2 linked regions of the Homo sapiens genome follow. The protein of the gene in region 1 purifies or fractionates together with the protein of each later gene. This does not show direct contact. Each region holds a gene or a part of one and is shown in the gene's direction. Other genes may lie near its edges. The genes, in order: HSD17B12 and AFG3L2.

Evidence for each region.
Region 2: the proteins of HSD17B12 (region 1) and AFG3L2 fractionate together in Homo sapiens (co-fractionation; one large-scale study listed by BioGRID). This does not show direct contact.

The regions. Positions count from the first base shown.
Region 1 is NC_000011.10:43,840,937-43,844,756, forward strand, and holds part of HSD17B12 (very-long-chain 3-oxoacyl-CoA reductase), read left to right. Parts: intron 1-3,820. UniProt on the Homo sapiens protein: Catalyzes the second of the four reactions of the long-chain fatty acids elongation cycle. This endoplasmic reticulum-bound enzymatic process, allows the addition of two carbons to the chain of long- and very long-chain fatty acids/VLCFAs per cycle.
Region 2 is NC_000018.10:12,349,703-12,353,522, reverse strand, and holds part of AFG3L2 (mitochondrial inner membrane m-AAA protease component AFG3L2), read left to right. Parts: intron 1-364; coding exon 365-518; intron 519-2,109; coding exon 2,110-2,217; intron 2,218-2,312; coding exon 2,313-2,438; intron 2,439-3,820. UniProt on the Homo sapiens protein: Catalytic component of the m-AAA protease, a protease that plays a key role in proteostasis of inner mitochondrial membrane proteins, and which is essential for axonal and neuron development.

The DNA.
Region 1 (3,820 bases):
GAAGAACTTAGCTATTTTCCATGTCAGCTACACCAGTTTACACTTCCACTGGCAGTGTGCAGAGTTCCAGTTTCTCCACATCTTCACCAACACTTGTTATTTTCTATTTTGTTTGTTTTTTATAATAGCCATCATAACGGGTATGAAGTGGTATCTCATTGTGGTTTTGATTTGCTTTTCCCTGATGATTAGTGATATTGAGCATTTTTTCATGAGTTTATTTGGTCATTTGCCTATCACCTTTGAAGAAATGTCTATTCCAGTCCTTTGCATATGTTTAATAAAATCGTGTTGTTTGGTTTCTTGTCATTGGGTTGTAGGAATGATCTATATATTCTGGATGTTGTCCCATTTTAGATACATGATTTGCAAAGATTTTCTCCCACTTCGTGAGTTGCCATTTTATTCTGTCTTTAGTCTGCATAATATCTTTTTATTCACAAAAGTTTTTAATTTTGATGTAGTCCAGTTTATCTATTTTTTATTTTGTTGCTGGTGCTTTTGGTGTCAAATCCAAGAAATGCTTGCCAAATCCAGTGTCATGAAGCTTTTCCCCTGTTTTCCTGTAAGAGTTTTCTAGTTCTAGCTCTTTGATCCATTTTGAGTTAACTTTTATATACCTTTGAGTTTATTATGTAGCTAGCAGATATAATGCTGTGAAAACACAAAATATGAGAGAAAGCAAATATAGGAGTTTTGATGGTTGGCAATTTCAAATTAACCATTCTTCAATTGAAAGAAATAGTATTTCCATGCTCAGGCACTTTTAAAAAATGTCTTGGGAGAAGTTGCAATTTGTACCTCTTTGCTGCTCCTGCCTATCAGCTACCCCACCTCTGTGCACGTCTGGTGTTCATTGTGGCTTTCATTCCTGTGAGGCAAGTATTTCACTTTTTGTATCCTGAAGCCACAAATGATCGATCAAAATAATAATAGTGAATATTTGAGTGGATACTTTTCAGGTACAGTGCTAAACACTTTAATATGTATCATTTCACTGCATCTCATAACAATCTCATACAATGGTGTGATGATGATTATTATTATTTTTAATTGCAGAAATTGGGGCTTAGAGAGGGTAAGCCACTTGCCCATGTTGAACTGGGACTCAAATCTGGGTCTGTTTGGCACTAAAGCCTTTGTTCTTAACCACTAGGCTACTTGCTCCAGGCCTGTAAGTCAACATTGAACACTTACTGGATCCATCTGTGCTCAGGGAGTGATGGAACCAGAAGGTGGTTGGTTAGTTCCATTTCCTCCTTTATGCCTGTAGAGCATCAAGATGGGTGTAAATGTCATGTAGATGTAGCTTCTAAACCTTTTTATTGAGTAGATACTGGTGGGAGCTAAGTCACCTACTGTGAGATAGAATGGTAATGAAAGGAAGGGGGGATGACTGTTTCCTCATCTTCCAGGATCATCTAAGAGCCTGCTTCCTCTAAACCCCGACCTGAGCTTTCATCCAAGGGAAGCTTAGATGTCATAGCCACTTGGTGTTATTTCTGACTTGCAGCTTCCCATATGTATAGGTTTCATTCGGAAGGACATGTGTTCTAGAATCCTGGATTTTATACTAAATTACTGTACTCTCTTTTTCCCCTTTCCTTGACACCAGTCATTTTAATGTTAGTAATGCGAATGTTCTATGTAGAATATGTTGTATTTTAGTAACAAGGACACCAGTAAAATGTTCTTGAGAAGCTATTACATTCCATGAGAAGGTATTCATGGGAAGGTATCACATGCCAGGCAATGGTATACCATTTTCTTTCTGATGAATCTAATTGTAATTACACTATTAACTGAATAGTTTGTAAACACCTATTGCGACTAGGCAGGAATCCTAAAAAGGTCCATTGGTGATTGACTATAAGCAGAGTGACCAGAAGCTGTAAGTGTCTCAGTGACAGAAGGTAGCATTAGGCCTTGTGAACAGACAATCAATTTCTAAAATTCCGTTAATAAGCAAGACTGTCTCCTCTCTCATTCTCACAACTTGTTTCCCTCAAAGATCTTTTCTCCAGATTTTCCACCTAGTAATCTGGTGTGACTAGAAGCTACTGTAAAAACACATTAGCATTTGTCTTCTGAAATATTTTATTTTGATAAACTTTTGTTTTTCCCTAATAATGAAGTATAAACTGTCATTTCATCTGTCATTGTGTTTTGTCATATGAATTCATTCAAGGTTTAAACTTTGAATGAATTTGATGAAAAAATAAAGACTCAAATGTTTGTGAGGGAAAGCACAGTCGTCATTCTGTGTGAATACATCAGAATGTTGAAGTAGAATAGAAAGAGAACCTCTTATTAATTCTGATCAAAGGGGCAAAAAAAATGTAGTCTAAATGAAGCTCAGAGTTAAAAATGATTGGTTTTTCTTTGGCGGTGTTTATGCCCACAAATTTTTTGGACTAGGAGTATTTATCAGCTGATTCTGCCTCGTACTCCAGCCCACACATGTTTCCTGGGTGATCTTATTAAAATACAAATCAGATAATGTTGCTTTCCTTCCTAGTCCTCCAGTGGCTGCCCATAAGGTTTAGGATTAAATTCGAACTCCACAAGGCCATCTCCTTTCTTGCCACTCCATTGTCCTCCCCGACGTTCAGGCCAGAGTGGACATCCCAGTGTCTAGTACATGCTCTGCCCTCTGAAGTGCCCATGACTGGCTCCTCTGTTGGCATCCTTTCCCCAACTCCTCTCCAGTTCTTCTCACTGTATCTCCTCCCAGCCCTATTTGCACCTGAACCCTATGGCTGCTGTCCCTCTCTCAAGGCTTGGGCCACAGTTCCCCTGCCCTGGAAAGCCTTCTCTCAGCTCCTTGGCACATTTGGTTAGGCCTTTCTTTGGGCTCTCGTTGGAGCTCCTTGTATACCTCTGCCTGCTACTGTCTGGCCCTTCCCTGTCTCCCCACTTCCATGTATTCTCGAGAACAGGGCTTTTTATCTTATTTGTCTCTGTGTTGCTGGCGGCACTTGTTGTTTGTGGTAAACGGGAGACCCACCTTTTCCATGGCATCACAGAAAACTCTGGTTGTGCATGGTCAAGCTTTGTGGTACACAGGCATCTGTTTTGATGGCTTTTTGAGCTTCTTCTATTGCTCCCATATGCTCCTGGCCTTGAATTTTCAGCCTCTTTATCTGAATGGCTTCTAGACTAATGCTATGTGGCCATGTTTCCATTTTTTTCTAAGCCTTGCAAAGAATGCTATCTTTTTAGGTCTACCTCCGTGTGAATGTACATCAGATTGCTCTTTTGGGGAAGGAAGAGGGTATATTGTTCAAATTCTAGATTGTTTCAGATTACTTCTTAATATTTTTCTTTTGCATTTCTCTCCCCATCTTTCCCTCAACTTCTTAACTTCTTTCCTATAATTTTATAAGATCATTTAAAATTGCCTTCAAGAATTCAGATTTGCCATTATATAATCATTTCCTGGGAATGCAAAAACACAGTAACAACAACAAGTGATGTAAATGCCCTGGAGGTGAATGATGGGCCTGAGAGACTATTTGATTTTGAACAGAGGATGAGAAGCACATTCTCAAGGAAACCTTATCATAAGTGTAGTCTGTTGATGAGGACTGTTTGTTCTCATTACCTTATAATTAAAGTCCAGTCAAAAAAAAAAAAAGACACTTGTGTCTTTCAAAAGGCAAAATTATTATAAGTAATTTGACTGGCTAGGTAGTGGGCCCTAGCCCTGGGCTCCTTCTGTCTACCCTGTACTGACTAGCAGTTAATACTGAGCAAGCAGGAAGTAGCTAAGACTAAGACTAAATCCTAAAACTATACCTCTTGAACTCTTATTCTGCAA
Region 2 (3,820 bases), on another chromosome or scaffold:
TTTTTTTTGAGACAGAATTTCGCTCTTGTTGCCCAGGCAGGAGTGCAATGGCTCAGTCTCAGCTCACTGCAACCTCTGCCTCCCAGGTTCAAGCGATTCTCCTGCCTCAGCCTCCTGAGTAGCTGGGATCACAGGCACGCGCCACCATGCCTGCCTAATTTTGTATTTTTAGTAGAGATGGGGTTTCTCCATGTTGGTCAGGCTGGTCTCGAACTCCTGACCTCAGGTGATCCACCAGCCTCGGCCTCCCACAGTGCTGGGATTACAGGCATGAGCCACTGTGCCCGGCCGATTTATTTCATTTCTTATTCAGAGAATACATAATATTCTCTGGTCAGGTGACTCTCTTTCTGTTTTTGCCAAGGTCCGAGACTTATTTGCCCTTGCTCGGAAGAATGCCCCTTGCATCCTCTTCATCGATGAAATCGATGCGGTGGGAAGGAAGAGAGGAAGAGGCAACTTTGGAGGGCAGAGTGAGCAGGAGAACACACTCAACCAGCTGCTGGTGGAGATGGATGGTGAGTGGTCAAGGCTTTTGTATCTTTAACTGCACTTTTGTTTTTTTTTTTGAGATGGAGTCTGACTCTGTCGTCCAGGCTGAAGTGAGTGGTGTGATTTCGGCTCACTGCATCCTCTGACCCCTGGGTTCAAGCGATCCTCCTGCCTCAGTCTCCTGAGTTTAAGCTGCACTTTTTATGCCTTTCATGTCCCCAAAATGAGAGTCCTTATTCCAATATTGAGTATCACAAACAAAAAAAAGCATTCCCTAAAACAAACAGCTCTTTTAAAAGGCCCTTTTATACTAATACAAATAATAGCAAAATATTTTTTCCTGGCAGCCTGCATAACTTAATATCGGTGTTAACATGCTGTTTGTGTCTGGTGTTTGAATAAGAGAAGAATTGGTGAAATGAGTCACAAAAGAATTACCATCTCATTCTCTAAATCATCACCATCTCTGAAGCATAAGGAAAATCTAAGCCTAACCAAGTGTGAATTTAGCAAATTTTGAATACTTTTTTACTAAGAGAGTAGCAGTCTTTCCATGCTAGCCAGCTTTTATTTCATTTAGGAAAGCCACTTCTCAGGATGTCATGTGTTCTTCCTGCTGGAAGATAAAAATGTGGATGCTTGGTTGTTTGTGCAGAAAGGGGAAGCACAGTGCCAGTACTGAACTGGCTTCAATGATGAAGCCAGGCATAGGGGCAGAATAAGGAGGTAGAAAGCCTCCTCCGTCCCGCGATGGTCAGCCCCTGTTGCGTTCACATTGGAGCACCACATCTGAGGGAAATTCACCCAGGAGCTCCTGCCGTGCCAGGGTCCTGAGGGTGAAGGGCCTGGGACCATGGCATTTACACTGAGAAATGGGCAGTAACACTGAGCCATTTGAGTGTGGAGAAGAGGTGGGAGGTAGAGGTTGATCTCTGCCTTCAGATAGGCAGTTGGTTGTCCTGTGGCCCAGGGTGTCAGACACATCCTTTGCCAATTTAATCTGATTTTAAGACATTTTTAAAATTGACATTATCTGTTAAATTTCTAGTTAAATTTAAATATTTGGTCATTTGTCTTTAGGAAATTTACTCGTAAAACTTTTAAGTCTAATATATGATTATTTTCAAGGACGAGCTGAATAGTAAAAAAATAATTCAAGTTTGTAACTTAAAAAACACTGGATAGGCCAGGGGCGGTGGTTCACGCCTGTAATCCCAGCACTTTGGGAGGCCCAGGCGGGTGGATCACCTGAGGTTAGGTGTTCGAGACCAGCCTGACCAACATGGAGAAACCCTATCTCTACTAAAAATACAAAAATTAGCCAGGTGTGGTGGGGCATGCCTGTAATCCCAGCTACTCGGGAGGCTGAGGCAGGAGAATTGCTTGAACCTGGGAAGCGGAGGTTGCAGTGAGCTGAGATCACGCCATTGCACTCCTGCCTGGACAACAGGAGTGAAACTCCGTCTCAAAAAAAAAAAAAACAAAAAACACTAGATAATGAATAGAAAATGTGTTTACTGTAGCTATGAATTTGCAGTGCTCATATGTTCCTGATGGTGCACTGTTGCTTTCTGCCTCTTGTCATTTAATAGTGTTTGCATTTTTGTTATCTTTCAGGTTTTAATACAACAACAAATGTCGTCATTTTGGCCGGCACCAATCGACCAGATATCCTGGACCCCGCGCTGCTTAGGCCGGGGCGTTTCGACAGGCAGATCTTTATTGGTGAGATGATGTTTGCTGGGGCAGGTCCAGTGCTCATGAGTGTAGGTGTGACTGTTTCAATATGATTTTCTTTTCCTTAAAAATGATTTCTAAAGGACCACCAGACATAAAAGGAAGAGCTTCTATTTTCAAAGTTCATCTCCGACCGCTAAAACTGGACAGTACCCTGGAGAAGGATAAATTGGCAAGAAAACTGGCATCTTTAACTCCAGGGTTTTCAGGTGAGTGGAAAATAACGAGGACCCTATTTAGAAGCATATTAAAATCAGTAACAGTTACCAGGTACCGGTTTACTTTCTTACCTTTTCACTTCTTTACTGTGGGCTTCCTAAGTTTATATTCTCATTTTTATTTTTTTTGAGACAGGGTCTCACTTAATTGCACAGGATGGACTGAGTGGTGTAATCATAGCTCACTGTAGCCTCAACCTTCTGGGCTCAAGTGATCCTCCTGTCTCAGCCTTGTTTGTAGCTGGGACTACAGGCATGTACCACCATGCCCAGCTAATTTTTTGATTTTGTGGAGACAGGGTCTTACTTATTATGTTGCACAGGCTGGCCCGAAACTCCTGGCTGTAAGTGATCCTCCTGCCTTGGCCTCCCAAAGTGCTGGGATTATAGGCATGAGCCACTGTGCCCGACTATTTTTACTTTGTTATTATGGGAAATTTCAAACATACACAGATTTTGAGGAAATGGTGTAATGAACCCATCTGTACCTGTCACCTAGTTTCAGGAACAATTACTAATTCACATCTGACCTTACTTTTATCTATACCCTCTTCTCTTTCTGCTTCCTCGGGAGTATTTTGTGAAAAATTCTTGACAGTGTATCATTTTTTTCTATAAATATTGTAGGAATTATTCCTAAGCGTTTTTTTAAAAGCTCTATTGAAATAAAGTTAACTAAAAATCACCCGTATAAAGTGTACAATTAATGGTTTCTAGTATATTTACAGGGTTGTACAACCATCACTATAATTTTAAAACATTTTGGGCTGGGCACGGTGGCTCACACCTGTAATACCAGCACTTTGGGAGTCTGAGGCAGGTGGATCACCTGAGGTCAGGAGTTCGAGACCAGCCTGGCTAACATGGCAAAACCCTGTCTCTACTAAAAATACAGAAATTAGCCGGGCATGGTGGTGCATGCCTGTAATCCCAGCTGTTCGGGAGGCTGAGGCAGGAGAATGGCTTGAACCCAGGAGGTGAGGTTGCAGTGAGCCTAAATCACCCCACTGCACTCCAGCCCAGATGAGAGAGCAAGATTCCATCTCAAGACAATCAAACTTTCTGTCTCTCTAGGTTTTTTTATTCTGTACATATTATATAAAAACGTGGTTTTGGCCAGGTACGGTGGCTCACACCTGTAATCCCAGCACTTTGGGATACCAAGGCAGGTGGATCACCTGACGTCAGGAGTTCAAGACCAGCCTGGCCAATGAGGCGAAACCCTGTCTCTACTAAAAATACAAAAATTGCCGGGCGTGGTGGTGGGGGTGCTGTAATCCCAGCTACTCGGGAGGCTGAAGCAGGAGAATCGCTTGAACCTGGGAGGTGGAGGTTGCAGTGAGCTGAGATCACGCCATTGCACTCCAGCCTGG